2 linked regions of the Homo sapiens genome follow. The protein of the gene in region 1 interacts with the protein of each later gene in a biochemical or structural test. Each region holds a gene or a part of one and is shown on either strand. Other genes may lie near its edges. The genes, in order: NR2F6 and NAP1L1.

Region 1 (15,654 bases):
CCTCTGTTGCCCAGAGTGGAGTGTAGTGGTGCGATCTCAGCTCACTGCAACCTCCGCCTTCCAGGTTCAAGTGATTCTCGTGCCTGAGTCTCCCGAGTAGCTGGGATTACAGGCTCCTGCCACCACGCCTGGCTACAGAAGGACATCAGTGAGAGGTGCCACCCCCACCACCATTCGGGCCCTTTCTCTCTGCCCTACAGCTCTGGTGCTGAATTCCACAGGTGCCTTTCCCACCACAGAGCTGTGCCACACACTCCCGAGGCTGGGACGGGAGAGTCCCTGGTACCCCACATGATTCCGTATCAACCCAGTGAAGCCCACATTTCAAAGTCTTGGCCTTGTAGGTGCCTGACTCCCAAACGTCAATCTCTGAAACAGATTTTTAGTTCCATGTGAGAAAAAAAACTGAAGTCAGATTGACTCAGGCACAAAAGGGGGGAGACTGAGTTCACAGAACTTAAAACACCCAAGGGTTTCAGGTATGGCTTGATCTGGGGCTCCAAAGGCATCTTGGGAAATTGATCTTCCATCCTTGGCTCTGCTTTAATTAGATTCTCCCAGTTCCAAATCCCACCGTGCAATCTCACTGGCTAGTTTGGCATCCCAGGGCCTCCATAAACCAGTTGCTGTGGCCCAGGGAATGGTGGTCTCTGATTGGCTCGCCTTACATCATGTGACAGGACTGGCCCCAGAGGTTTCTCCCAAGGACATTGGAGCCCAAACAAGATTAAGGGCCCGGCAGCTCATGCCTATAATCACACCACTTTGGGAGGCCAAGGCAGGTGGATCACCTGTCAGGAGTTCGAGACCAGCCTGGCCAACATGGCAAAACCCCTCTAGTTAAGGTACAAAAATCAGCTGAACGTGGTGGTGCGCACCTGTAATCCCAACTACTCAGGAGGCTGAGGCAGGAGAATTGCTCCAACTCGGGAGGCAGAGGTTGCACTGAGCCAAGATTGCACCACTGCACTCCAGCCCAGGTGAAACAGCGAAACTCCATCTCAAAAAAAAAAAAAAAAAAAAAAAAAAAGATTAAGGTTGACCAAAAGAAAGTAAGTGAGGCTAGGCACAGTGGCTCACGCTTGTAATCCACTTTTGGAGGCCTCAGGTGCATCACCTGAGGTCAGGAGTTCGAGACCAACCTGGTCAACATGGTGAAACCCCATCTCTACCAAAAATAAAATTAGCTGGGCATCGTGGTGGGTGCCTGTAGTTCCAGCTACTGGGGAGGCTGAGGCAGGAGAATCGCTTGAACCTGTGAGGCAGAGGTTACAGTGAGCCAAGATCACGCCACTGCACTCCAGCCTGGGTGACGAAGTAGGACTCCGTCTCAAAAATAAAAAATAAAAATAAAGACCAGGGAGGCTGTGCAGGTAGGAAATGTCTTTATTATTGGCCTTGAGTCATCATGTAGTGTCTGACATAGGTTACGTGTCCAGAGGATCTGCCTGGCACACGCTAGCTACCCCTGCCCACTGGAGCAGCCCCTCTGGCCGACGCCAGGCCTTTGTCCATCATGCCAGGGAAGCCAACCCCACCATCCCACAAGTTCATGCTAGGGGTGCTGAGGAACAAGGCTGTCCTAGGATTGGACCCTCCATCCTGGACAGGGGTCCTGGGGAGGATGAGGCTGAGGCCTGGATGATCAGTCTCTTTTTGGTTTCATGATCATTTAAAAAACAGAAAAGACAAACATTTCACAGTCTTTAAAAAATAGAAGTCTGAGGAGAGAAGCCAGAGTCCTGGGCCCCGGGAGGCCCCTCGAGGCCTCAGCATTCCCTGTCCCTTGAGGTCTGTCTGCAGGCCTGGCCACAGCACACGTGGCCCCGTCATGGTCACTGGCCCGAGCCGTAGGGCCAGTTGAAGGTACTCCCCGACAGCAGCATGTCTCTGATCAGTGTCTCAATGGGCGTCTTCCCCACCAGGCGCATGAAGAACAGCTGGGAGATGAGGGAGGCAGGGACCGCGCGCAGGGCGGGGAGCCGCAGCAGCAGGCGCCCGAAGCGCTGGGGCTGGGACGGGTACTGCGCCCGCACATACTCGGTGAGGGCCACCTGCGCCTTCTCCTGCAGGCTCTCAACGTGGGCCGGGTCTGAGAGGCCACAGGCGTCTAGGGGGACAAAGGCAAGTCAGACAGGTGGGAGGCAGCTAGAGAACACAGAGCCCACAGGGGTGACTAGGGGACACCACTCGCCACTGTGGGTAAGAACAGGGGGCCGGGCATGATGGCTCACGGCCACAGTCCCAGCACTTTGGGAGGCCAAGGCAGAAGCATCATTTAAGGCCAGGATTTGAGACCAGCCAGGGCAACATAGTATGATCCCTTCTCTGCAAAAACAAATCAGCTGGGGCTGGGCACAGTAGCTCACGCCTGTAATCCCAGCACTTTGGGAGGCTGAGGCAGGTGGATCACTTGAGGTCAGGAGTTCAAGACCAGCCTGGCCAACATGATGATATTCCGTCTCTACTAAAAATAAGAATAATTAGCCAGGCATGGTAGTGCGTGCCTGCAGTTCCAGCTACTCGGAAGGCTAATGGGAGGATCGCTTGAGCCTGGGAGGCGGAGGTTGCAGTGAGCCGAGATCGTGCCACTGCACTCCAGCCTGGGCAACAGAGGGAGACCCTGTCTCAAAATAAATAAAAAATAAAAATTAGTCCAGTGTGATGGCACACGCTTGTAGTCCCAGCTCCTCAAGAGGCTGAGGTGGGAGGATCTCTTGAGCCTAGGAGTTTGAGGCTACAGTGATCCATGATCATAGCACAGCCTGGGCGACAGAGTAATAAGACCCTGTCTCAAACAAAACAAAACAAAACAAAACAAAACAAAACAAAAAACGACCCTGGGATGCAAATGGGACTATCTAAGACTGTGTCGATCCTCCAGAGATAGTGAGGTGTTCTCATCTAACCAGTGACATAGGGGTGCAGGCAGTGATGTTTCAAGGGTGGCTGGCACCCAACTCATGCCTTTGGCAGGGAGACAGGTTCTAATTTTTTTTTCTTTAAGATAGAGTCTCACACTGTCGCCCAGGCTGAAGTGTAGTGGCACGATCTCACTGCAACCTCTGCCTCCGGGTTCAAGTGATTCTCCTGCCGCAGCCTCACAAGTAGCTGGCATTACAGGCACACTCCACCACGCCTAGCTAATTTTTGTATTTTTAGTAGAGACGGGTTTTGCTGTGTTGGCCAGGCTGGTCTTGAACTCCTGACCTCAAGCAATCTCCCCACCTCGGCCTCCCAAAGTGCTGGGATTACAGGGCCACCAGCCAGGCCAAGGAGATGGGTTCTAAGGAAGCTCGCAGGGAAGGTGGGGCTGGGAAGGGAATTTGATGAGGAAGACAGAGCCCAGAAGGGCCTACGGTGTGAGAGAATGTGGCAGCCTCTAGAGAGAGACCCAAGATAGGAAGCCAAGAAGAAATCTGGGAAGGCCAGGCGCGGTGGCTCACGCCTGTAATCCCAGCACTTTGGGAGGCTGAGGCGGGCAGATCATGAGGTCAGGAGTTCGAGATCAGCCTGACCAACATGATGAAACCCCGTCTCTACTAAAAACACAAAAATTAGCCAGGCGTGGTGACGCGTGCCTGTAATCCCAGCTACTCAGGAGGCTGAGGCAGGAGAATAGCTTGAACCAGGGAGGCGGAGGTTGCAGTGAGCCGAGATCGTGCTACTGCACTCCAGCCTGGGCGACGGAGTAAGACTCCGTCTCAAAAAAAAAAAAAAAAAATCTTCTGGGAAAACAATAAATAAAGCCATATTTATTGATTTTTGAGACGCGGTCTCACTCTGTTGCGCAGGCTCAAGTGCAGTGGGAAAATCAGAGCTCACTGGAGCCTCGAACTCCTGGGCTCAAGTGGTTCTCCCAACTCTGCTTCCTAAAGTGCGGTGATTACAGGCCTGAGCCACCTTGCAGGCCCAAAACCATATTTATCAAATGAAAGCCACCTCCCAGAGTAGCCTGGATCTGGTTCCTAGCCCCAAAGATACCTCTGATGGGATCTAGAGACTTCCAGTAGGTTAAAGAACTCCCAGGAGACAGGCTGGAGAGATCTTTGTCTAAAGGCATGGTGGCTTATGCCTGTAATCCTAGCACTTTGGGTGGCTGAGGCAGGACTGGTTGCGCCCAGAAGCTCAAGACCAGCCTAGGCAACACGGTGAGACCACGTCTCTACAGAAAACGTTTAAAAAAAAATTAGCCGGGAATGGTGGTGCACGCCTGTGGTCCCAGCTACTCAAGAGGCTGAAGTGTGAGGGAGGATTGCTTGAGCCCTGGAGATCAAGGCTGCAGTGAACCGTGTTCGGACAACTGCACTCCAGCCTGGGTGACAGGGTGAGACCCAGTCTCAAAAAATGGAAATACAAATAAAAAAATAAAGTGGAAAAAAAAAATTTGGCTGTACCGCCAGTCGCTGGAATACGATGGGCTACCACTGCTAGATAGCTGATGGTTAAGAAAGTTCTGGGGTTGCCCCGCCCCTCAACGGGAGGGGCCTCCGAGCCACGCCCCTACCCAGATCCCTACAACCCTGGCTACCTGGAGGTTGCCCTGGGAGCCCAGTGGGGGCCTGAGGGGGCCAGAACCAGGGGGTCAGGACCTTCCCTCCCACGTCCCCCCAACCTTGTGCTATCAGTGCTCACTAAGCCTGAAGAGCCCTTTGGTGAGGGAGTAGGGGTCTCAGGGAGCCTGGGAACAGGAAGAGGGTTCTGGGGTCTGGGCCCTGGTCCTGGCCCAGCCTTGGGTCTGGGGTCCGGGGTTCAGAGTTCTCCGAGAGTCCTGGGATCACGGAGTGGGGGTGTCACAGTGTCACACTGCTTACATCACCCCTCTACAGCCACCCAAGAGCGTTCACTCACGGCGCGTGCAGGGCCCCAGGCCTAGGGAGCGAGCGGGGCGCTATGGGGGCCGGAGTCTGGGTCCAGGCCGCCCTCCTCCTAACCTCCCTTGGGTCCCCCCATCCCGCGGCCCTCTTCGGAGCGTGGCTCACCGGGCGTGAAGAGCGCGATGGCCTTGAGGCAGCCATACTCGGCCGAGTCGACCTGCAGGCGGCCCAGCTTGTCCACCTGCTCCTGGAAGGCGCGCACCTGGTCCATGAAAGCCACGGCGCGCTCGGCGGCCATAGGCGCGGCGTGGAGGCCGGCGGCGGCCAGTAGCGGCGCCGTGTGCAGGGGCAGCGCCGCCTGCGCCGCGTTCAGCACGAAGAGCTCGCTCCAGCTCAGGCGCAGCAGCGCCACCTGGTCGGCCACCGGCAGCTCGGGGAAGAAGGGCGCGTGGCGCGCCCACTCCACGGTGCTGAAGAGCAGCCGCGCCGCCAGCTCGCACACGTTGTCGATGCCCAGCACCGCGCCCGCCGCGCCGCCCCCTGCGCCGAAGCGTCCGGCCGCCGCAGGGTAGGGCTCAGCGCGCAGCAGCTGCGCGATCAGTTCGGACACCGGCTGCCCCGGGAAGAGGTCTCCGCCGCTCGCCACTGCCGCCAGCGCCGAGCCCGGGGGGCTGCCCGAGGAGGCGGCCACGGCACCAGGCAGCGAGTGCGGGATGCGGCCGCGCTGCACCGCTGCGGGAGGCGGGGACAGGAGGGACATGGGGGCGGGAGGGGAGGCGGGGGGGGGGGGGGCGGGCAGCAGGAAACGGGGGAGGGACAGGAGATGGGGGAGGGGAGGGCGGGGCACAGAAGGCCGGGAGGAGAGGAGATTGGAGAGACAGGAAGGGAAGCGAGGGGTAGAGAGGAGAGGGCCGGAAGAGGGGGGATGAGGGGCCAAGTAGGTGCCCATAGAGACATGGGGTGGGGGGCAGGTGGGGGGGGGCAGGTAGGGAGAATAACGGGAAAGGGAGACAAAAGTCATCAAGGGGTCACTCAGGCCCTCCCCTCCAAAGCCTCCAGGCCCAGCCTTTCCCAGAATGCCCAACCCCACCCCATGGGCGCCAGGCTGGTTAGAAAGTAAGAGTCCAGGAGTCCCTGTCTAGGTCCAGCCACCACCCCCCACCCCCAGCTCCTGGGGACAAGGAGGAGCATCTAATAAACCTTTTGGAGCCTCCTAACAGATAGTCATGGGGTTCCCAGAGCTGAGGATGGGCCATGGAGGACTTGGGGACCCTGGCCAGCTTGGTCCCCAAAGCAACAGATCAATACCCACCCAGCACTGGCTCTCTCCTATGGAACAGGGATCATTTCTCTACCTTCCATCCCCCTCCCCACCAGATGGTGACCCCTGAGGGCCGGTCTGGGTCCCTGCAGAGGCTACAGTGCAGGGAAGGGTTGGGGGGGACCTACAGTAAGGAGGGGTCCCAGGGGGGCTGCCATAGGTCCTCAGTAAACATTAGCCGCCATCAGTAGCCTTGCTTATGAAGCGGGGAGGCCCTGCTGCTGGCTTGGGCACGTCTGCAGTGACCAGGTGGGTGAGAAAAGGGAAACTGAGGCATGAAGAGGAAGAGAGTTGGCCATGTGCCTGCCTGGCTTGTGCCGGGGTGGGCGGGATGGCAGGGCTGACTGGGCTGGTTGCCAGCAGACTAATTAATGAGCTTTAATGAGCTGGCATGCCCCATCTCATCACCTCCGTGAACTCCAGGTCAACTCTGTGTAGAGCAAACACCGGAGGGGAACGCGAGCAGAAGCCAGGGGCGAACAGAGCTAAGCGGAGAAGCCAGGGCATGGGTTGAAGCCCGCTCCAAGGGGTCCCTGAGTCTGAGTCAACTGTCAAATGGGGATAGGTGGATGGGGCCCAAAAGTGGTTCCCCGGTCCTCCAGGAAGCTTCCTCCCGCTTTGTTCACTGGGTTGTGAGCAACCACCACTCCCTCACATGGCCACATTCCCACCCCAGGGCCTTTGAACTTTTTCTTTTTCTTTTTTCCCTCCCTCCCTCCCTTCTTTCCTTTCCTTTCTTCCTCTCTCTCTCTCTCCCTCTCTCTCTCTCTCTTTTTGAGATAGAGTTCTGCTCTGTCACCAGGCTGGAGTGCAGTGGCACAATCTCAGCTCACTGCAGCCTCCGACTCCGGGGTTCGAGTGATTCTCCTGCCTCAGCCTCCCGAGTAGCTGGGATTAGAGGCACCTGCCACCACGCCTGGCTAATTTTTGTATTTTTAGTAGAGACGGGGTTTCACCATGTTGGCCAGGATGGTCTCAATCTCCTGACCTCGTGATCTGCCCACCTCGGCCTCCCAAAGTGCTGGGATTACAGGCGTGAGCCCCCACGCCTGGCCGGCCTTTGCACTTTCTGTTCACTCTTCCTCAAACCCCTCCCCAGCTCTTCAGCCCAGACTGTGGAGGTTCAAATCCCAATCACAACTCTGTTGCTCTCTGACAAATGGCCTCACCAATCTGCTGTGTGCCTCAGTTTCCTCATCTGTAAAATGCAGACAGTGGCTCCCATTTGCAAGCCTAGCACTTTGGGAGGCTGAGGCAGGAAGATCGCTTGAGCCCAGGAGTTTGAGACCAGCCTGGGCAACATAGCGAGACCCCGTCTCTACAAAAAATTAAGAAATTAGCCCAGCATGGTAGCGAACACCTGTAATCTCAGCTACTCAGGAGGCTGAGGTGGGAGAATCACTTCAACCCAGGAGTTTAAGGCTGCAGTGAGCTATGATCGCACCACTGCACTCCAGACAGAGTGAGACCCCGTCTCAAAAACGATGTCACCAATCACTGAATTAAATGAGAATCTATACCTTAAAATAATGCCTGCCACACAGGAAAGGTAATTACATGGTAATTCAAGCCAAGGACCATTTATTGAACACCTACTGTGTACCAAGCCCTGGTCTAGGCGCTGGGGAACAAGACAGACAAAAATACCTGCCCACAGGGAATGGACATTCTGGGTGTAAGCAAATTACAGAACAAGACAGGTGGCGTCAAATACAGGGGGATCAGGAGGGCTTCCCTGAGGAGGTGATGTTTGAGCAAACCTTGAAGGCAAGGTTAGGGAGGGAGCCATGTATGGACCTGGAAAAAGTGCACTCCAGGCAGAGGGAAGAGCCCGTGCAAAGGACCCGAGGCAGGTGTGCTTAAAGCATGAGCTGTCATCATAAATATTTCCACCCGAGGCTTTTGGAGACTTCTGGCGAGGCTGTTTGCTCTGAGGCCATGACTTGAGATATATGAGGATTTTAGGTAAAATAGACAAGTAGAGGCAAAATCCATGTTATGGGGGCAGGGACAAGAAAGTTACCCCCAAACTTAAAAGGGCCACAGGGAGTGATCAGTTTTAAAAGAAAGCCCCTCAGCTGCCTCTCTCAGCTTCTCCCACCAAGGCCTAGACCAAAAAACAACAGCTTTACGCCAAGTATGGTGGCTCATTCCTGTAATCCCAGTAGTTTGGGAGGCCAAGGTGGGAGGGTCGCTTCAAGCTAGGAGTTCGAGACCAGCCTGGGCAACATAGTGGGACTCTGTCTCTAGAAAATAAAAAAAGCTGCCGGGTGGGGTGGCTCATGCCTATAATCCGAGCACTTTGGGAGGCTGAGGCGAGCGGATCACCTGGGGTCAGGAGTTGGAGACTCCAGCCTGGCCAACACGGTGAAACACCATCTCTATTAAAAATACAAAAATTAGGCCAGGCGCGGTGACTCACGCCTGTAATCCCAACACTTTGGGAGGCCGAGGCGGGCAGATCACGAGATCAGGAGATCGAGACCATCCTGGCCAACATAGTGAAACTCCATCTCTATTAAAAATACAAAAATTAGCTGGGCGTGGTGGCATGTGCCTGTAATCCCAGCTACTCAGGAGGCTGAGGCAGGAGAATCGCTTGAACCAGGGAGTCAGAGGTTGCAGTGAGCCGAGATGGCACCACAGCACTCCAGCCTGGCAACAGAGCGAGACTCTGTCTCAAAAACAAAACAAAACAAAATACAAAAATTAGGTGGGCGTGCCGGGCGCGGTGGCTTACGCCTGTAATCCCAGCACTTTGGGAGGCTGAGGCAGGCAGATCACGAGGTCAGGAGATCGAGACCATCCTGGCTAACATGGTGAAACCCCGTCTCTACTAAAAATACAAAAATATCCGGGCGAGATGGCAGGCGCCTGTAGTCCCAGCTACTCCGGAGGCTGAGGCAGGAGAATGGCGTGAACCCAGGGGGCGGAGCCTGCAGTGAGCCGAGATCATGCCACTGCACTCCAGCCTGGGCGACAGAGCAAGACTCAGTCTCAGAAAAAAAAAAAAAATTAGCTGGGCGTGTTGGCCCGTATCTGTAGTCCCAGCTACTCGGGAGGCTGAGGCAGGACAATCACTTGAACCCGGGAGGCGGAGGCTGCAGTGAGCTGAGATCACACCACTGCACTCCAGCCTGGAAGATGGAGCGAGACTCCATCTCAAATAAAAATAAAAATAAATAAAGAAAATAAGGAAAAAAAAACTTCAAAGCAGGGGAGGCTCAGGTTAGACATTAGAAAGAACTGCCAGCCTGGCCCACGACACAGTCCCCAGAGGAACCTGAAACCCAGCACAGGAGATCTCGTCCAATAGGCTAGATTCTATTCCTGAACCCCAGAAATCCATGCAGAAATCTCTGGGTTCTACTTGAATTCTAAGGGGGTTTGGCAGAGTTCTAGGCCCAGCAGCCCAGAATACGCCCGTCCACCTGGGTCCCCTGAGCAGAGACAGCTGGGCCTCACTCTTGCTCCCAGCGCCCGGGGTCAGAAGAAAGGGTAAGCTGCCCTTTGCCTTAATCGGGCAGAGTTCCTGCCTTGGGCAAACAAAAAGCATGGGTGAAGGGTGGAGGAGAAACAAATCAAATAAAAAAAAAAATCCTTGTTCAGAACGCGGTGGCCGCGCTAGCAGACAAGAGGTCACCAAGGTGTCAGGGCCAGGGAACTGGCCTCTGAGGCTGGAGTCGGGGGTAATTGGGGAAGGCAGCTCCTGCAAGAGAATGGGGCTGGGGAAAGTCCCTTGTGGGGCGTCCCTGGCCTCTTCAGCTCCACGGCAGCAACCAGGGGGCCACGGATCCTAATTGGATTCCTCCAGCCTAGGGCCAGACTGCAGCCCACGGGATCAAGGGATCAGTGGTAATGAGGTTAGCAGGCGCCGGCCCCCACCCTGTGAGGCACCCAGACCCCTGTGAAAGGGAGGGGTGAAAGGGAGGGGAAAAAGGGGAGGAAGAAGCTGTTTGTTCACCCCGGCTCCAGCGGCTGTGATCGTCCCCAGTGTGTCCCCAGCACGTACTCACCCTCCTTCCTCATGCCCACCCGGAAGCACTTCTTGAGACGGCAGTACTGGCACTGGTTCCGGTGGTGCTGGTCGATCTGGCAGTCACGGTTGGACCTGGGGGCACACAGAAGCCAGGGCTCCCTGAGACCCCCATATCCTCCTCCCCGAACCAGCCTATGAGCCGCCTTTGGAGGCTGCCCCTCAGAAATACTAGTAGGGGCCCTCTAGACTGGAGAGGTAGCCCCAAAGGGGTACAGGAGCTCAGCTTGCAGGTCTGCAAACCAGACAGGATAACCCGGATGAGTGGTGATGGATGAAGAGGAATCTGTGGAAAAGCAGATGAACACCCCAGGGAGGGCACATTGGCATGGGTTTTGAAGGATGAATAGGAGTTCTCCAGGTGAATGGCGGGGTGATCCCAGAGAGAGGGTACAGCCAGAGCAAAAGGGTTGAAATACACAAATATGGAGGCCTAAAGAGTTTCATTTTATTTGGTCACTGTCAGGCTGAGCAGGGTCATTGTCCCCAAAAAGATGTGAAGGCAAAGAGGACATGGTCAGAGAGCTGGACTTTGTGAATTAACTAGGGGTCAGGCCAGGGGCTAGTGGTCTGTGGGGTCATAGCATTGTGGGGCCCCAGCATTATCACCCGCACAATGCCCACCCCAAGGAATGAGGAAGTAAACAAAGTCACTCTGGTCCTCAGCCCTGAAGGCCCCACACCTACGCTCTTCCGAGAGGACCACCCAACCCCTATGCAAGCTGGAGATTTTCCTGGTCAGCCCTCAGTGAATGCCGTTGCCTCTTGCAGGGATGAGACAGGTGGCCCCACCCTGAGAGGTGGTGAGCTCCCCATCCTGGGTCAGCCCCCAAGCAGGAAGGTCCAGGCCTTATTCTTCAAATGTCCCCAGAACCTTCTCCCCTTGGCCCCTGCCCTTGGACTCCCCTGGTCTCTTGCCACCAGGAGCTGGGGGCTCTCCAAGGCCTGGGCCTGGAGCAACTACCCCTGGGGTTCCAGCTGGACACCCAGGGGACACACAGAGACAGTCACAGAGTAGAACCACCACTTAAGGGAATTAAACAGATGCATCTCTGCAGTGGCTCACGCCTGTAATCCCAGCACTTTGGGAGGCGGGGGAGGGTGGATCACCTGAGGTCAGTTCAAGACCAGCCTGGCCAACATGGTGAAACCCCGTCTCTACTAAAAATACAAAAATGAGCTGGGCGTGGTGGCGCATGCCTGTAATCCCAGCTACTTGGCAGGCTGAGGAAGGAGAATCGCTTGAACTGGGGAGGTGGAGGTTGCAGTGAGCCAAGATTGACCCACTGCATTCCAGCCAGGGTGACAGAGTGAGACTCTGTCTCAAAAAAAAAGAAAAAAAAAAAGGCTGGGTGCAGTGGCTCATGCCTGTAATCCCAGCACTTTGGGAGGCCGAGGCGGGCGGATCACCTGAGGTTGGGAGTTTGAGACCAGCCTGAACAACATAGAGAAAACCTGTCTCTACTAAAAATACAAAATTAGCCGGGCATGGTGGCGCATGCCTGTAATCCCAGCTATTTGGGAGGCTGAGGCAGGAGAACCGCTTGAACCCGGGAGGCAGAGGTTGCAGTGAGTTGAGATCACGCCATCGCACTCCAGCCTGGGCAACAAGAGTGAAACTCCGTCTCAAAAACAAAACAAAACAAAACAAAACAGATGAATCTCAGCTGCAGATACCCAGCCCTGCCCCTCAGGTGGCGACTGCCCCACTGAGCCTCGGTTTCCTCATCTGAAAATGGGAGGTCAGATATTGCCCTATCATATGGGATGGACTGGGTCAGAGGGGTTCACGGGGGACAGTGCCAAGACCCAGAGCCCAGCCGGAGAACCCAACTTAGGAAAGCTGAGGATCTGCGCCCACTCCCCCGTACCCCCCCTCCACCACTGCCTGGGTCCTGCAGCACCAGCCACTGAGCCCCTGGGAAGAGGCCCCACTAGGGCAGAGGGAGCTCAGGCAGAACCAGAACAAAGCCCAGCGGCTGGGTGGTGGGAGGGTCCAGGGCAGCCGGGTGGAAACGGCCTGGCCTGGGGCGGCCCTGCAGGCAGGCAGAGGCCCAGCTCAGGGGCCCCTGACCTCAGGGGAGGCCCTGAACCTTCAGTCTCAACTTCCCCAGCTGTGGAATTGGGACAGATCCATCCCTCCAAGGAGGGAAACAGTTAAGTTCTTCCTGTTATCCCACCTAAAGAGTGCAAGCTTTTTTGCCCAACCCCATGGCCCAACTCAGCTTCCTCCCTGGGCTTCTGGCCTCCAGTCCAATTTGATCAGAGCCCTCTCCTGCTCACACACCCTCTATGGCTCCCCATTACCCTCAGCCAGCATTTCAGGCCCACCTAGCTCTGACTTCTCCCATGGCTGCACAGTCCCCCTCTTACAGCACAGCTCCCCCAGTCTGCCACTAAGTGTTTTGTCTGGACCACATTCTGGCATGTCCCTGTGGCCTTTCTTCCACCTGCCAACTCCATGCTTCAAGGCTCATGTCCCCTAGCCTCCTCCAGGCAGCCCTCTCTGACCTCCAGGCAGAGCCTCTGCTCTCTCCCTGGGACCCCAGATCCCACAGACTTGGGGCATCTGTCTCACTGTGTCTCCTCCAGACTGGGGGCTTCTCAGGAGCTAGACTTGGAGCTGGGGTCTCTCTGGAGGGGCTGGCATCAAACTACCCAGGCTGGGCCCCAGCGAGACCCTGCTCAATCCATTTGAAGCTCAGAATGGAATGGTGATTTCACCAGGTCACACAACTGACACAGCACAAACCTGTCAGCTCCAAGCAAGGCCCCCCCCACCCAAAATTGCTGCTCCCTGACACCACCCTCAGGAAGCTCCTGGGACCCCAAAACTGCCTGAGCCCCCCTCCCTTACCCTCCCTAAAGATATGACCAGAGAGCAGGCGGTTTTCCAGCAGCAAGAATGAGGCCAAAGTCTAGTGGCCCACTTTGTGCTGGAGGAGGGAGCAAGGCAGCTCTGCCACACATGGCCACACCAGGCCAGCCCTGACCCGGGACCTGGGGCCAAACTCCACCCTCGGGTACCTGGGGCCCTATTTGGTGGCCTCAGCCAACAAGCCTTCCATCAGCCGTTCTCCCTGGGGCCACTCCGATCCGAACTCAGCGGTCCCCACCCTAGCCCCACAGTTCCCCCACAGTGCCCCCAACTCGGGCAGCGTCCCTCCATGTCCAACGCAAAGCAGGCACCAGGACCTCTCTCTGGGCCTTTGGGCCTCTGTTTTGGGCAGCTGGGAACTGAGACCGTCTAGACGGGCTCCACAGAGACCCTGCATGTTCCTGGGGTGCAGAGTAGGGGCTTATAAACGGACAGATCGGATGCTCGCCCGGGAACGGTGAGAAAAGAACTCCCGGGCTGGACAACCCCGATCGCTTTCCCTGGGGACCTTCCGCCAGAACAGCTAGCAAGGCCACGCCCTGCCAGAGAGGTCTCCGACCTGGGACAGCCCAAGGCTCCTGCTCGGAAACGTTTCACTCCCTGCCCGTCTCAGAGACACCCAAAGTTTGAGGGATTTTTCCAGGAGCCCCAGGTCTGCACCCACCCCTGGGGGAGAGGGACGTTTCAGTCAATTCCGGTGGCCCTGCCGGCCTTCCAGTGGCGATTTCCGGTGACCCAAGGCCCAGAGTGAGCCCAGAGGGGTTCCCTGAGATGGGCAAGCCCAGCTCCCACCCCCACCCCCACCGCTGGGCCCCTCATGCGAAGAAGGCCGCCCCGTGCCACCCCAGCCTCCCTCCGTCTGCCGCCTCCGTAGCCACAGCGACTTTGGAAGTGATATTTGACCCCAAGGGCGCGCCGTATCGATCCGCGCGGCCGCAGACAATGGCCCCTGGACGCTGCGAGCTCCACGGTCCAAGTTCCACGTTCGATTCCCTCGAGGGCATCCCGCGCGCCGGGATCCCCGAGAACGGGTGCCCTGGGGTTGGGTTACCACCCCTGACAGCACCCCTACCCCCACCCCAGCGCGGAGATGACCCCTCCCCAGAGAAAAAGCGGAGGGAAGGAGAAGCAAGTAACTGGGGCAAAAGCCTCCAGGGACCACCTGATGGGGGGGGAACCTGCAACGATGTAGCGCCGACTGTATACACAATCCCAGCCATGGAATGCGGGAGGAGGGTGCTGTGCCCCTATCTCAGAGGGGGCAGTGGAGGCCCAGGGAAGGTCAGCGCCAGGCCCAAGGTGACCGAGCAGGTCAGAGGCCTGCCCCAGGTCGGGGCGGGGTGCACGGCGGCGGCGCGCGGATGGGGGGCTCACCGGCAGGTGTAGCTGAGGTTGCGGCGGATGCTTCGCTTGAAAAAGCTCTTGCAGCCCTCGCAGGTGAAGACACCGTAATGCTTGCCGCTCGACTTGTCCCCGCACACCACGCAGTCCACCTGCAGCCCCGGCCGCTCCTCGTCGCCCGGCTCGGCGTCGCTGGCGGCACCGGGGGGCGAGGCCGAGTCGTCCTCGGCCGCGCGCGGGTAGCCGCCCGCCTTGTCCACGCCGTTCGTGTCGCCGCCGGGGCCGCCCCAGCCGCCGGTCACCATGGCCATAGCCCCAGGGCAGCGGGGCCGGGGCGCCCCCACCGCGCTCTTCCCTCCGGGCACCCCTCTCGGCCCGGGGGACCCTACGCGGCGCGCATTCGGCCCCGGCGCGCGGGGGGCACGGGCTGCACCCCCCAAAAAAGTTTTGCAGCAACTTCCTGCGGCCGGTCCTCGCGCCCGGGCGGAACTGGTCGGGCCGGTTCCAGGCCAACTTTCCCACGCGTGCGCGGGGCCGGGCCCGGGGCCGGGAGGGGCACGCTAGAGGCGCGGGCCGGGGGCCCAGAGGACTCGCGTCCCGCCGCCCTGGGGCCCCGGCGGGGGCGCGCGGGCCATGGCCCGGCCCGAGCCGCGCAGGGGGCGTCCTCTGGCCTGGCCGCCGCTCGCCCGGGGGCTGCGGCCAACTCAGCGGGCCGCCATCCGAGCGCGGGAGGCCGGGGGGAAAGTTTGGCCGCAAGTTGCGCGGCCGCCCGTGGCGGGGGGGGAGGGGCGGCGGGTGCGCGCCGGGGCTGATCGCCGCGCCCCCTGGGTCCCCCGGCGCCCGCGGCTGCCGCTCCGGGCCTGCAGGGCCGCTGGGCCGGCGCCTCTGGAGCTGCCGCCCCCGCTGCGGCCGCTCCTGCCTGGCCTGGGCCTGCGCCTGGGCCCAAGCCTCGCTCTCGCCGCCGCCACCGCCACCGACCCCGCGCGCCGGCCTCGCGCTGCGGCCGGTTTGACACACAGCGTTCCATTCGCGGGGCGGGCGGGGGGCGGGGGCGGGGGCAGGGGCGCGCGCCGCGGGCTGGGGGCGGGCGCTCGTTGCCCCGGCGACGGCCGCCCTTATAAGGGCATGGGTGGCCGCGCGCGGCGCCGGGCGAACGGGCCGGCGGGAGGGACGGGGGCCGAGCGCTGGGCCGCGGGGCCTGACCCTCCCCCGCCTCCCTCTGCCCCTCCCCCCGCACCCCCGCCCTCGCCCTCGCCCAGCT
Region 2 (16,182 bases), on another chromosome or scaffold:
TCACAGGGTTGTTATGAGAGTTAAATGAGATAAAGCATTCAGGCAATTTAGAAAAATACTCAACACATAGTTAATGGTAGCATTTGCTGCCTCAACTCCTACTGTTTCAGTTACTCTCTCCTGGATTTTTGTAACATATTTTTCAAAAATGTTTCTAAAATATTTTTTATTTATTTTATTTCAATTTTTTTTTTTTTTTGACAGGGTCTCACTCTGTTGCCCAGGCTGGAGTGCAATGGCTCACTCACAGCTCACTACGGCCTCGACCTCCTAGGCTCAGGTGATCCTCCCACCTCAGCCTCCCGAGTAGCTAGGACCACAGGCATGCACCACCATGCCCAACTAGTTTTTGTATTTTTAGTACAGATGAGGTTTCACAATATTGCCCAGGCAGGTCTTGAACTCCTAGACTCAAGCGATCTGCCCACCTCAGTCTCCCAAAGTGCTGGGATTACAGGCATGAACCACTGCTCCCAGCCCAAAATAATTTTTTCATATGATTTTAGAATAGGTTTAATCTGGCTCATGACCTGTATACATAATACCACCCTGATTGTGGGAAACTATGTATTGTATTTTTTTCATTACTAAAAAGTGGTATTTCTTTTTTTTTTTTTTTTCCTTTTTGTGTGTGTGTTTTTTTGTTTGTTTGTTTTTTGTTTTTTTTTAAGACAGAGTCTTGCTCTGTCTCCCAGGCTGGAGTGTAGTGGCACGATCTCCACTGACTGCAACCTCTGCCTCCCGGGTTCAAGTGACTCTGCTGCCTCAGCCTCCCGAGTAGCTGGGACCACAGATGTGCACCACCACACCCGGCTAATTTTTGTATTTTTGGTAGAGGTAGGGTTTCACCATGTTGGCCAGGCTGGTCTCAAACTCCTGACCTCATGTGATCCACCTGCCTGAGCCTCCCAAGCTGCTGGGATTACAGGCGTGAGCCACCCCGTGTGGCCTAGAAGTGATATTTCTAATAGAGGTTCAGTTTTAACTCCTGAAGGTAGTGAGGATGAATAGGCCCAAATGAAACTGACAAACATTTGATATCAATACATTTAATGATGGCTTTGCTAGAGTTTTTCTGTATGTGAAATACACGCCCAGCCAAAGGTGGAAGTTATCATTTGAGTAGTGTATTCTGCAATGTATTTTCCACACAGCCTTGAACAATCAGTCCAAAACTTCTTTCATACAGCTATTCTCTTGCCAGAAATCCTATCCTGTCACAAAGCAAGTTCTTACTTCCCTGTCAAGATTTGTTTTCACTGTCACTTCTGTGAAGTTGGCTCGCTGTCCTCTCCTCCATTGTTACACTTACATTGAGTGGTAACAGTTTGTTTACTTGTCTGTTTATATTGCAGTGATTTCCTTGAATTCTGGGACTCCCTCTTATGCCTTTAACTGGAAAGGATGGAGTCACAGGCTCAGGGTCTGATTTGATGCTAAGCTGCCTGTATTCTGATCCTAACTCTGCCACTAGTGGCTAATATGGTGTGGAGACAGGTGCTGGATCTCTCCGAGTCTCAACTACCTCATCTATGACACAGAGATAATAACAGTATATCATAGGGTTGTTGTGAGGATTCTATCAGTTAGTATTTGCAAAACTCTTTAGAATAGTGTCTGGCACAGAGAAGTGGTGTCAGTGGTTATTACTGTTGCCATTGACTTGATTTTTCTTTATTTCCAGATTTTATTTCTAGTTTGCTCTAATTGCTCAAATTTACTTAGCATTACGATTAATGACAAATCTAATTTTACTGCTTTTTGCTCCTTCTACCTTCAAGAACTAATCTTTTGAAATATAAGAGAATCACAATTTGATCCTGCAGAGATGGAATATTGAGAAATGAAGTATTGAACTTCTGTTATTGGCGAAAGGTGCATAGCTACCTTCCACTTTTTTTTAACTTATTCTATAATTCTTCCCATTCCGATAAGTCCCCCCTTGATCAATAAATTGATTCCCTTTTATTTCTGTACTTCACTCCCATTATCTTCTATTCCAATTATAATGTGTATAATATGTGTTTGTATTTAATTAGTAAAGATGTTCATCTCACCCCATTATATCATGATGTACTTGATGCCAACATGGCTTATAACTCATAATGTTAACCTTGATCATTTAGTTAAGGTAGTGTTTGCCAGGTTTCTTCACTATAAAGTTAATATTTTTCCATTTCCATACTATTTTCTTTGAAAGTGAGTCATTGTAATTCCATACCACAACCAAAAGGACAGGATTAATCTCTATCTCCTAGAGAGGAGTGTCTACATATATTCTTTAGAATTCTTTTTTTTTTTTTTTTGAGATGGAGTCTTGCTCTGTCACCCAGGCTGGAGTGCAATGGCGTGATCTCGGCTCACTGCAACCTCCACCTCCCGGGTTCAAGCGATCCTCCATGCCTCAGCCTCCTGAGCAGCTAGGATTACAGGCACCTGCCACAGTGCCCAGCTAATTTTTGTATTTTTAGTAGAGACAGGGTTTCATCATGTTGGCCAGGCTGGTTTCGAACTCCTGACCTCAGGTGATCCGCCTGCCTTGGCATCTCAGGTTGCTGGGATTACAGACGTGAATCACTGCGCCAAGCCTAGAATTCTTCTATAAGATAAATTTCTCCCTTTATCACTTAAGTATTTATTCAATAATACTTATATCATTATGGACTCATGGATATTTATTTTACTCTCTGAATTATAATCCAATACTATCACTGTTTTGTTGGTTTTTTTGGGTTTTTTTGTTTTTGTTTTTGTTTTTTTGCTGAAATTGTTCCAGCTTTGGCCACTGGGGAACTCTTTCCAATTGCCTCTGGTGTCCTTTTGACCTCTCTCCTACTTTTATAATTTTCTTTTTTTTTTTTTTTTTTTTTTTTAGCACTATAAGATGTTCCAGACTCGTCTTGCGTTTTCCCTCCTTTAATTGGAAATGGTATTTAGAAACTAAGATTTGTGAACTGGTCATGCTTGTTGTTACTGTGGTGTCACTATGTGTTAGGCTGTTCTTGTATTGCTATAAAGAAACACCTGGCCAGGTGCCGTGGCTCATGCCTGTAATCCCAGCACTTTGGGAGGCCGAGGCAGGTGGATCATGAGGTCAAGAGATCGAGATCATGCTGGCCAACATGGTGAAACCCTGACTCTACTAAAAATACAAAAATACAAAAATTAGCCAGGCATGGTGGTGTGTGCCTGTAGTCCTAGCTACTTGGGAGGCTGAGGCAGGAGAATTGCTTGAATCCCGGAGGCAGAGGTTCCAGTGAGCTGAGATCATGCCACTGCACTACAGCCTGGTGACAGAGCAAGACTCCATCTCAAAAAAAAAAAAAAAAAAGAAAAAAGAAAGAAAAAGAAACACTTGGGGCTGGGTAATTTATAAAGAAAAGAGGTTTAGTTGCCACATGGTTCTGCAGCCTGTACAGCAAGCATAACATTGGCAGAGTGGAGTGGGGGAGGTACCACATTTTACCAGATCTCATGAGAACTCATTCCTCACTCACTATGGTGAGGACAGCCTCAAGCCATGAAGGATTCTGTCCCATGACCCAAACATCTCCCACCAGGCCCCACCTCCAACATTGGGAATTATATTTCAACATGAGATTTGAGCAGGGACAAATATCCAAACTATATCACATTGCTTCTAGGCTTCCTCAGTGGGCAAAGCTAGGAAATATATTAGCCTATGTATATATACATCTTTATTGTCCATCTATTTATCATCCATCTATCATCTATCTATAAGCATGAATTCATTCATACCTCTATCTCTGACCCTAATCCAGCACCCCATGGTTCATTCTAGCCTTCTCTCCTTGCTTATTTGTGACTTTTTCCCAGTAGCAAGAGACCTGGCTCCCATTATCTACAATTATTTAGTTATTTGCCAAACCCTAGTGTTAGGAGTTGAATTGTGTTATCCTAAAATTCATATGTTGAAGTCCTAAACCCCGGTACCTCATAATGTGACCTTACTTGGAGATAGCATCTTTACAGAGATAATCAAGTTAAAATGAGGTCATTAGGGTGGGTTCTAATCTGACTGATGTCCTTATACAAAAGGGAAATTCAAACAGACACACACATAGAGGGAGGCACAGGGAGAGGACAGCTATTTACAAGCCAGTGAGAGAGATCTGGAACAGATCCTTCACCCACAGCCCTCAGAAGGGACCAACTCTGCTAACAACTTGATTTGGGATTTCCATCCTCCAGGACTATGAGAAAATACATCGTATTGCTTAAGCCACCCAGTTTGTTATGGTAGCCCTAGCAAACGAATACAGATTTCCTAGTATACAGGGAAATTAGTTTCCAAATTGCTAATGCTTATTATCTCTTTGATAAATAAATTTATCAACTATAGTGCAATGTTTATGTGTAGCTCTTTTTGCCTTTAGCCTTATAGTGTCCAGTCAAAATACTGTTTTCGAAAGTCAGCTCCTTTTTTACTCACCCCCTCAGTGAGATTATATGTTTATAATTCAGTTAGATTAATTTGTCACAGTCTGCATCTCATCCTAGGATCCCCCAACATCTGGTTGATTTTCTGAAAAATTGAATATAGCAAATGGATTTTGCTCAATGTATATAGTCATATATCCACTACCTATAAAATATAGAACAATTCCATTATCTTTAAAAAATCCCCTCTACAACCCCTTTGGAGTCAACTCTGCACCTCTCCTCCAACCCCTGGCAATCACTGATGCTTTCTATTTTCATAGTTTTGCCTTTTACATATGCTGTAGAAATGGAATTGTAATATATAGAGTTTTGAATCTGACTTCTTTCACTTAGCAAAAATGCATTTGAGTTTCATCCATGTTGTTGAGTGAATTGATGCAGGACAGGTGAGCCCCAGAATTGAGGCTTAGTCCTGGAGCGATCTTGGCTTTGCCCAGGAAAGAATTCAAGGGTGAGTGGCAGTGTTAAATAACAACTTTTATTGAAGTGGCAGGGTACAGCAGCAGCAAAGGTACTCCTCCTGCCAGAGCAGAGTTACCCTACAGGCAGTGTGCCCAGAGTAGCAGCTCAGAGGCACTTCTGCAGTCCTATTTATACCCACTTTTAATTATATGTAAATTAAGAGGTGGTTATGCAGAAGTTTCTAGAATAAGCGTAGTAACTTCCAGGTCATTGCCATGGAAAGGGGTGGTAACTTTCAGGTGTTGCCATGGCAATGGTAAACTGACAAGCACACTGGTGGGTGTGTCTTATGGAGAGGTGCTTCCACCCTAGACCTGTTTTAGCTAGTCCTCAATTTGATCCTGATGTCCAAACCCCACCTCTGGAGCCAAGTCCTGCCTCCTACCTCAGAATCAGTAGCTCCTTTCTTTTTATTTCCATCGTATAAATGTGCCACTGTTTGTTTATCCACTCACCTGCAGAGAGAGATCTTGACTGTTTCCTGGTTTTGCCAGTTAGAAATAAAGTTGTATACGTGTGTGTGTTTGTGTGTGTACATAAGTTTTCAATTCACTTGGGTAACTACTCAGTAGAAGGATTACTGTGTCATATAGTAAATGTATATTAAACTTTATTTCATTTATTATTAAAATTTTTTTGTTGTTCATTTTTTGTTTTTGTTTTTGTTTTTGTTTTTTTTGAGATGGAGTCTCACTCTGTCACCCAGGCTGGAGTGCAATGGCATGATCTCAGCTCAGTGCAACTTCCACCTCCCAGGTTCAAGTGGTTCTCTTGCCTCTCAGCCTCCTGAGTAGCTGGGATTACAGGTGCCGGTCACCACGCCAGGCTAATTTTCTCTTTTTAGTAGAGATGGGGTTTTGCCATGTTGGCTAAGCTGGTCTGGAACTCCTGACCTCAGGTGATCCACCTGCCTCAACCTCCCAAAGTGCTGGGATTACAGGCGTGAGCCACTGTGCCTGCCGGCCTATTTTTAAATTTTTTTGAGACAGAGTCACGCTCTGTCACCCAGGCTGTAGAACAGCAACACGACTGCTCACTGCAGCCTCGACCCCCCCACATACACCCCTCCACTCCCCCCGGCTCAAGTGAACATCCCACCTCAGTCTCCTGAGTAGCTGGGACTACAGGCATGCACCACCATGCCTGGCTAATTTTTAAATTTTTTGTAGAGACAAGATGTTGCTGTGTTGCCCAGGCTGGTCTGAAACTTCTGAGCTCAAGCAAAACTCCCACCTCAGCCTCCCACAGTGCTAGGATTACAGGCGTGAGCCACTGAAGAAACTGCCAAACAGTCTTCTGAAGTGATTGGACCATTTTGCATTCCCACCAGCAGAGTTAAGAGTTCCTGTTCTTTTATGTCTTTGTCAGCATTTTGTACTAATGTATTTTTTAAAATTTGAGCAATTCTAATAGGTGTGTAAGGGTACCTCATTGTGGCTTTATTTTGCAACCACTACATTTTAAAGATTCAATATTGCCATATTACATTCAATGTTCTGCTACATAATACTCCATGTTGTGCATATACAACATTTCACTCTCAATTGTCCCAGTAATGGGCACTCTGATTGTCTCCAAATTATACTGTGTAATTTGTTTTCTTTATTCATTATGATCTAAAATATATCAACATTTCTTTACTTTCTTTTTACCAGCAAGTTGTTTCATGGATGAGGGAAAATAATATCCAAACAAATACCCAAATAATATTCAAACGAAAACCCAAACAATGTCCAAACCATATTCAAAATCTTCTTGTGCAGATTAGGTTGTCAAATTTGTCCAATATAGACTCTATGATAAATGTAGAATTGATGTAATAGACTTCAAAAAAGGATTATTTACATGAAGTATTGTGACTTCCTGTTCGTTTTCAATAACCTCTTTATTTCCTTTCTCCATCCTTCCCTTCCTTTCTTCCTTGCATCCTTCCTTTCATTTCATTCTTTCAAGCAAATAAATATTTACTGAAAGCTGTTCACGGCCAGTCACTGTTTAAACCAAGGGTATGTAAAAAACATAACACTGCCCTGCAGCAGTTAACAGGCTAGTGTGGTGTGTGTTATGGGAGAAGGAAACATGGGCTCATGAATGAAAGAATGAATGAATTAATTAATAAATACATATCTACATAAATACCCACATACAAGTGTTGTCCGCAAACAGAGAAGGGTTTGCAGCCAGCTTTGTCTTGATGAGTCAGAGAACTTTCTCTGACTTGATTAGACTTATATTTTAGAGCAATAACTTTGGTAGATTGAAGTGGAATAAGAGATTGGTATTAGGGAGACCAACTGTGAGGCTATTGCAAATGGTTTAGGTAAGAAATATTGAAGGCCCGCACAAAACAATGGCATATTTTCTTTTTTTTTTGTGATGGAGTTTCGCTGTTGTTGCCCAGGCTGGAGTGCAATGGCACGATCTTGGCTCACCGCAACCTCCGCCTCCCAGGTTCAAGCAATTCTCCTGCCTCAGCTTCCCGAGTAGCTGGGATTACAGGCGTGTACCACCATGCCCGGCTAATTTTGTATTTTTAGTAGAGACAGGGTTTCTCCATGTTGGTCAGGCTGGTCTTGAATTCCCAACCACAGGTGATCCACGTGCCTCGGCCTCCCAAAGTGCTGGGATTACAGGCGTGAGCCACCGCGCCCAGCCTAACAATGGCATATTTTCTACCTAAGTGGTCTATGTGTGAGAAACAAAATAAAATAAAATCTAGGAATGTAGAACATTATTTGGCATATAAAAAAACAAAAAAACAAAAAACCCTGACCATAATAAAAGGTCAACATACACTGCAATAATCCTGTCCAGGAAAAAAAAGAATTAAAATTTAAAAATAAATGAATGAAAGGGCAACATAAGGGATCCTTGGGCGATATAGCTGATCTGTATCTTCTTGGTGACAGATACACAAAGCCACAAATGGTAATATTGTATAGAACTAAATCCATAAACACACAAATGGATCCAAGTGAGACTGGGAAAATCTGAATAAGATCATGGATTGTTACCATTATGGTAAACTGGGGAAAGTTTTCATGGATCTCTCTGTGTTATTGCTCAAAACTTCATGTGAATCTATAATCATTTCAATAAAAAATTCAGTTAAGTAATGACAGGAAAATAAAAATATTCTTAAACAAGGCAAGCATAGTGGCTCATGCCTGTAATCCCAGCATTTTGGGAGGCTGAGGTGGGAGGACCTCTTGAGCACAGGAGTTGGAGACCAGCCTGGGCAACATAGTGAGATCCCCAAAATAAAAAAATTAGCCAGGCACGGAGGTGTACATCTGTAGTCCCAGCTACATGGGAGGCTGAAGTGGGAGGATTACTTGAGCCAGGGAGGTCAAGCTGTAGTTGTACCACTGCACTCCAGCCTGGGTGACAGAGTGAGACCTTGTCTCAAAAAAAAAAAAAAAAAAAAAGCCAGGCACAATGGCTCACTCCTATAATCCCAGCACTTTGGGAGGCCAAGGAGGGCGGATCACCTGAGGTCGGGAGTTTGAGACTAGCCTGACCAACGTGGAGAAACCCCGTCTCTACTAAAAATACAAAATTAGCCAGGCGTGGTGGTGCATGCCTGTAATCCCAGCTACTACTTGGGAGGCTGAGGCAGGAGAATCGCTTGAACCCCAGAGGTAGAGGTTGCAGTGAGCCGAGATCGCACCATTGCACTCCAGCCTGGTCAGCAAGAGCAAAACTACGTCTCAAAAAAAAAAAAGATTTTTTTTTTAAACAAAAAAACTATTAATCCTTTTTTTTGAATGTAGAGAGAAAAATGTAAGGCATCTTATCCATAATTTTCCACTTGGAATTTGATTACATTGCAGCTATAAATTAATTTGGGGAAAAGTAGAAAAAAAATCCAGATCTGAAACTAACGTAACTGTTATTTAAATGTATCTTGTGCAGTTTTTAGATGATAATTATTATTAGTTCCCTTGGATGTTTTACCTACAGATTAATTCAGAGGGAAGAAAATAAATACTGAGTACTTAAAGGGCAAGTCATTGCTCTGGGAACTTACATACATTTCTCTATTTCATGCTAATAAAGACACAGATTTTATTATAATTATTAATGCATTTTTCAGATAGGGAAGCTTGAAGATCAGAGTGGATAAGTACTTTTGCAAGGTCACAGTGTTGAAGGAGCCTATACCTGTCTGATGTTAAAGCCTATGCTTTTTTTTCTACTACATAGGGGCTGAAACACAGACACAAGCACAGGTAAAATACCATCTTTGTCATCAAATTTCTTGTTGATCTTCATAGTTCTTATCCAATATTGAGAAATGTTGACTATAATATTTTTGTGGTAATTGGTGTGGATTATTTCAGCTCAGGAAAATGTCTTTTAAAAGCTGTGACTAGATAGCTTTTAATAAAATATGTCACAAAAAGTGTCAGACACTATCAGAAGACTTCGGGGTAGTTCCTTAAACCTTTAAATAAAACAAAAATAAAAACAAAACTTCAGTAAGAGGTTAAAAATGGTTACCTTTTATTGAGCGGTCACTATATATGTCAGGCATTATGTTAAGCAACTTAAATGTGTTATTTAAAGTTTCACAGCTGAGCCAGGCACAGTGGCTTACACCTGTAATCCTAGCACTTTGGGAGGCCGAGGCGGGTGGATTGTCTGAGCTCAAGAGTTTGAGACCAGCCTGGGCATTGTGCAACCCCATCTCTACTAAAATACAAAAAAATTAGTGGGATGTGGTGGCGCGCACCTGCAGTCTCAGCTACTTGGGAGGCTGAGGCACAAGAATTGTTTGAACATGGGAGGCAGAGGTTGCAGTAAGCCGAGATTGCGCCACTGCACCTCAGCCTGGGTGACAGAGTGAGACTCTGTCTCCAAAAGTTTCACAGCTGGGCAAGGTGGCTCATGCCTGTAATCCCAACACTTTGGGAGGCTGAAGTGGGAGGATCTCTTGAGTCCAGGAGTTCAAGACCAGCCTGGGTAATATACCAAGATCCCTCTTGACTTAAAAAAAAAAAAATTTTTTTAAGTTTCACAACAGCCCTATGAAAAATGCATGCTTATTTTCCCCATTTTACAGATGTGGAAAATGAAACCTGGGATGGCTAACTGACTTATCCAAAGTTACACAGCTATTAAGTGGTAGAAAAATGGGGACAAAATAGGCTGTTTGACTCCAAAGCCACCCCTCTAAGCCTCCAGGCTACAATGCTATAAAAGTCTACCAAATGAAAATCATGGGAGATAGAGAAAAAAGGACCTTTAATTTTAGTATATATGCTTCCAAAGAGAGCATGAGAAAAGGAACTGCAACAGAAAATTTCGCATGGCCCAAGATCAGTGACCAGGGTCACCATTTATTGCAATTAAGTTAGATGAGTTAACTACATTGTGTGATTTGGGGGTATAAGAGGGGCCAATGTAAAAAGCTCAAAGGTGGCCGGATGCAGAGGCTCACACCTGTAACCCCGGCACTTTGGGAGGCTGAGGCAGGCGGATCATTTGAGGTCAGGAGCTCGAGACCAGACTGACCAGCATGGTGAAACCCCATCTCTACTAAAAACACAAAAAAACTAGCTGGGCGTGGTTGCGCCTGCCTGTAGTCACAGCTAATCGGGAGGCTGAGGCAGGACAATTGCTTGAAACCGGGAGGCAGAAGTTGCAGTGAGCCGAGATCGCGCCACTGCACTCCAGCCTGGGCAACAGAGTGAGACTCCGTCGAAAAAAAAAAAAAAAAAAAGCTCAAAGGTATCTTCAGGTCAGTCACCTCCTACCCCTTTTCTCATTTTATTTTCTTTATAGCATTCACTTATCAATTATTTATTATTGATAAGTGAAATTGTTTTATTACTAATATTTTATTAGTAAAATTATTTTATCTCTAATCATTTGCCTCACCTCACTAGACCATAACTTCAATAAAATCAAGAACCGTGTCTTTCTTACTAAATGCTGTATTTCCAGAGTCCGAAGTTGTGCCTGACATAAATATTTGTTGAATGAATGCATAAATGTCTGCCCTTCCCTGAACTTTAATGGCAAAGACTTAGATTTACAAACTGGTTCAAAAGACTATATTACAAAGGCATGCATTATTAGAAATATTTTATTGTTTAGTTTCTTAGATTGGCTAGGATACACTGAAAAAAGAAGAGGAAGCTGGAGAAAAGGGGGAAAGAGCATATGTACTGGTAATGATAACACCTAAGTTATAGGGGTTGGTGGGGGGGTGGTGAAACCTAAAAAATCCAGAGCCTTCATGAGCGAAGTGCCGAAAATTGATGAGGCTCTCTGGTGTGGGATAAAAACCACCACAAAAGCTAACTTCTCAATTTTGTCTCAGAAATTCTGCTACCATAAAGATTTATGGAAAGAAAGTGAAAGTTATTTAGTTCATTTTAATATGCTAATTACCTTGCATCGTGCACAGCTTTGATTAAAATGCAACATTCCTGAAGTTCTTATTGAAATTAATGTGTCAAATTTATGTTCAAACTGAGCACTGGTCTACCTTGTTTATGTATAGTGGGTTCTTCCTGAAGATCCATTATTGATGCTATTATGCTCCTTGTATCATTACATCATTGTTGAGAAGGGTGTACAGGAATAGGCTATGAGAACAACAAAGGAATTGTATATGAAAAACTAAAATGAATGAATAAACAGAGTCGTCTGCAGTATAGAGTGGGAAGGCAAATAATTTCAATGAGGTTCTGGAGGGCCAAGGAAAACATTGTATCCCCTAAAACGGAAGATAAAGTTGCTAAATGTGTGGATTACAATAGGGGATTCTAGGCAGTTTGAAGTTTCAATAAATGCAAGATTTAGAGAAGAGGTTCTCAAACTTTGTGGTCTTAGGATTCCTTTACACTCCTTTAAAAGTTGAGGACCCCAAAGAACTTTTATGTGCATTACTGATACTGATATTTATATCAGAAATTAAAAGTGAGAAATTTTAAGAGTATTTCATTTAAAAACAATAAAGCAATCAAATATTAACAAAAAATAATTTTTATATGAAAAATAACTACTCCCCCTTGCCCCCAAATCGAGTTTTTGCAAATCTCTTTAACGTCTGGTTTAACCGCAGATGACTGGATTCTCCTATCTGCTTCTATTTTCAGTCTGTTTCCTTATCACATGTCACGTAGCCTCCGGAAAACCCCACTGTACACTTGTGAGAGAATGAGAATGCAAAAGGCAGTCTTGACATTAATATGGAAATAGTTTTGACCTTCCCCATGAAAGGGTCTGGGGACCCTCAGACCATACTCTGAGAACAACTTTTTGAGTTAGTATTAGTCAATTCATCATCACTTGAAAATTAGCTATGAGGTTTTACAAGCCTGAGGATTTAATGTGATTTACTTTTTCAGAAAGATGAAACAACGGACGTACTGAGTGTCCTCATTATAACGCATCCAGAGAATGCACAAATATGCCATTTTCATCCGTCAAAAGAACTGAAGCCGAACTGACGGACTGTACATCAGTTACGAGGATGTGGCGGGGGGTTGGGGGGCAAAGGATGACGAGCACCCCCTAAAGGCGCGGAGACCCGCTGGCATAGGAGAAGCAAAACTGTCAGAAGAGGCCGCCGAAGTGGTCTAGAGGAAAAAACTGTTTTTCTTAGGCGGGGAAGGAAAACGGTTACCGGGGGCCGGCGAGTTGCAGGAATTAGGCCTTGACAGGGAGCGTCCGCCGTCTAGGCTGCGGCGAGCGAGGGACCAGGCGACTGGCGCCAGCCCTGAGCGTTCCCAGCACAACGCCGAAGGGGGCGGGGCGGGCCGGGCGCCGGGCACGCGGGCCAGGCCTTCCCCACAACTGATGGGGTTGAAATTTCCTTTCCGGCTCAGCAGGGAGAAAAGATATGGTGGGGTGCTTAACAGAGGAGGTTAGACACCGGCGGGAACCAGAGGAGCCCAAGCGCGGCGCCTGGGCCTCGGGGCTGCAGGAGTCCTCGGTGGGGGTATGGAGGTCGCCGGGGAAGGAGGACGGTTCAGTTGCTAGGCAACCCGGCCTGGACCCGCCTCTCGCTCGCGTTGCTGGGAGACTACAAGGCCGGGAGGAGGGCGGCGAAAGGGCCCTACGTGCTGACGCTAATTGTATATGAGCGCGAGCGGCGGGCTCTTGGGTCTTTTTTAGCGCCATCTGCTCGCGGCGCCGCCTCCTGCTCCTCCCGCTGCTGCTGCCGCTGCCGCCCTGAGTCACTGCCTGCGCAGCTCCGGCCGCCTGGCTCCCCATACTAGTCGCCGGTAACGGATGGGGGCCTGGAAGGGAAGGGGGAACGTGGTGTTGGCTGGGCGGCCTGCGCAGATGGGAGGGCCGGAGGGATGGAGGGACTGGGAGCCGGGAGTCGGGGCCGCTGGCCGCCCGTGGCCTCCGGGGTCGTCCTGTGAGGTCGGACAGGACCGCGGAGTCCGGACCCCGGAGCCTGAGAGGGGCCCCGGGGCCGACCAGCGCTTTTATCGGGGACGGCTGAGGCGACGTAGGGGTTGGCGCGGCCTGGAGGCCTAAGGTTCTCTGAGCTCCACCGTCTTTTCCGCGTGGACCGGAGCGAGGCCGCGGTGACGCCCGGGTGCCCTGAGACTCGGCTGCGCCGCGAGGACCGGGAGGCCCCCGGCGTACGGGCCGGGCCGAGTGCAGAGCCGGCCGCCTCTTGGACACCCCCCTGCTTTTCCCTCAAAAATAATACCAGGAGGGAGGCCGCTGGGAGATGAAAAGAACGGCGGAGGCTGCGAATTCCGACGGGAGGGAGGGGCTGTGGAGGGACGAGTCCCCGAGGCGGGGAGGGGGCGGGGGAGGCTGCGACGCTCCCGGGCTCTCCGCCCATTGGGGGCGGCCGCGCGGGGAGGGGAAACCCCCGGCGGCTTCGCTCCACACGTGGTAATGGGCTTCATGGCCACTGGCTGGGCCTGGTTGGAGACCCTTGCCCTCGGTCTGTGCTTACTTTGAAAGTTGTAGAGACGGTGGAATGTGAAAAGGAAGGGTAAGCGAGTAAGCCCTGTCCCTGGGTTTCAAACTCTTCCCTGCTTCTCTTTGGTCTTAATCTTTTTATTGGTACCAGAGATTGTGGATGTTAGCTGATGATAAGGAAGGGCCTCCACTGCTAGTATTTTAAAAAGTTAACGCGTATATAGCGCTTATATTAACTGTTATTAGCAAAAGGTTGTTATTGTGTTTCCCAGGTACTGTTAGATGGGTGTCTTGATCAGGGTTTTTTATTTGGGGAGTATTGATCCTGATCGATCTAAACCCCTAAACCAAGCTTGTCCAACCCGCGGCCCAGGACGGCTTTAAATGTGGCCCAACACAAATTCATGAGGTTTTTTTTTTTTTTTTTTTTTTGGAAAAAAAAGCTCATCAGCTAGTTAATGTATTTTACGTGTGGCCCAAGACAGTTCTAGTGTGGCCCAGGGAAGCCAAAAGATCGGACCACCCCTGCAAACGGTTCTTAGATGAAAATAAAATGTTTGGCCCTTTATGACTTTAATTGTTCTTGGCTGTCTTATAAATTAGTTCCTTTATTGAAGTCACTAGAATAAGATACTTAACGGTTTCCTTTTTAAGATGGGAGGTGGGATGGAATGAGGTGTTAGTATAAACTTTGCCAAGTTTGTAGCCTGCAACCTTGTCAATGAACCCTACTGCCCTAAAGATCTGGGGGATGGCAGTGTAGGGGGGCTGGGACTGAGGTCCCATCTGGGAAGGCTAGACTTTGAGAGTGCAAAAAGGATGAACCAGGCGCAGGATGTCCTCAAGGAGCCCGTATTTTAGACGGTCACTGATCAGTTTTGAAACAACTACATTTTAAAAATCTCACTGCTACATTTGAAGATATCCCACTGCTGCATTTTAAAATTTACACTGCTTGCCTGGTTTCACAAGAGCTGTAAAATGAAATTTGGCCTTTTGAAAATAGGTGGATTCAAAACATCTTTGGAAACGAGTATCTGGGTCCTCTTTTTTTGGTCAGCTTAAATTAATACTCCTATACTTTGGAAGTAATATACATTACCTTTGATTGAATAAGGGAAAAACCTTTTATGTATAGGGTACCATTTAAAAATCGAAGGGAAGTAAATGACTTTTACAGTTATTTTCAAGGCACTCTTGTGTTTCAAGCTTGTTTGAAGTTGCCCAAGTTTAAATAAATGGCCTAAATCTATAGTTTAGTTCTAAGAATACTGTCCTTTGGAGAATGTATGGAACTAAACCCTGGTAGGTGGACTTGGACATCTTCTGTCATAAAACCTGACTTTCATAGATTCTCCAAGTCAACATTATGTTAGTAAATAGAAATTTAAAAGTTTTCACTATACCAATTTGAATATCTTTCTAAATTTTATCTGCTACAAAGTGCCTATTTTTATATTAGGCCCATTGATTTGCAGAATTATAAAGCTAATACTGAATATGGTAAATTACTGCACTTGGCCTTTAATGAGATTTTTGAAACGAATACCTGTACCATAACTAATGTAATCCAAAATGCCATCTCATTTTATTCAGCTTGCTCCTGTTGGCTCCTGGTAAAACTGAGTTGATTCTAAATTCTCAAAATATATTCAAAACTAAGGGTCTTTTTGTAGAAGGGGCTAAAGAAGCAGTATCTGTTGGACTTCAAAGGTCTGAAGATGTCAAAATACAATATTTTATTCACTTCTTGGTTGTAAATTTGAAACAAAGGATTAGAGAGAATGACTCATCAATATCAAAATATTAATGATCAGTGTATTCAGATCTTCAAGTTTAATCAAACCTGTAATTGTGTTCTCAGTTTAGTCTTTGGGTAACTATCTAGCACCTGTATGGACATGTATCTTATGTCATGAGCAAAAGAGGCAAATTGGTTGCTTAGATGTAGAATGTTAAATTGTGATGAGAGCTATAAAGGAAGGAAAGGGTAAAGGGGTCAAAGAGTAATACAGCGTTTACACAAAGGAACCTGTTATAATTTGATGATTTTAAGTTCCATTTCAAACTAGTTTCATCTAAATAAGTTTTTGGGCAGAATAGGGGTTAGAAGGAGAGAGTTGTTACTTTACACCTATCCATATGTAAGTCGTTTAGCACAATGACTACAGAACATTAGAGTACATTAGTGGGCTTGCCATAGAAAATGGCTTCTATACCTTTGGTTACCAACTCTGCCTTTTACTTCCTGCATATTTGTATATATTTTTACTTATTCAGAAGTTTTGTACATTTTAATTTTTATTGGGAAACAGGGTTATATATATTTTTTCCTTGTGGAGACAGGCTCTTGCT

Evidence for each region.
Region 2: the proteins of NR2F6 (region 1) and NAP1L1 form a complex in vitro, tested with the Homo sapiens proteins (one study listed by BioGRID).

What each region holds. Positions count from the first base shown.
Region 1 is NC_000019.10:17,230,517-17,246,170, forward strand, and holds NR2F6 (nuclear receptor subfamily 2 group F member 6), read right to left. Parts: upstream 15,404-15,654; 5' UTR 14,705-15,403; coding exon 14,427-14,704; intron 10,250-14,426; coding exon 10,155-10,249; intron 5,550-10,154; coding exon 4,983-5,549; intron 2,111-4,982; coding exon 1,836-2,110; 3' UTR 1,367-1,835; downstream 1-1,366. UniProt on the Homo sapiens protein: Transcription factor predominantly involved in transcriptional repression.
Region 2 is NC_000012.12:76,081,551-76,097,732, reverse strand, and holds the start of NAP1L1 (nucleosome assembly protein 1-like 1), read left to right. Parts: upstream 1-13,047; 5' UTR 13,048-13,166; intron 13,167-13,790; exon of another isoform or gene 13,791-13,900; intron 13,901-16,182. UniProt on the Homo sapiens protein: Histone chaperone that plays a role in the nuclear import of H2A-H2B and nucleosome assembly.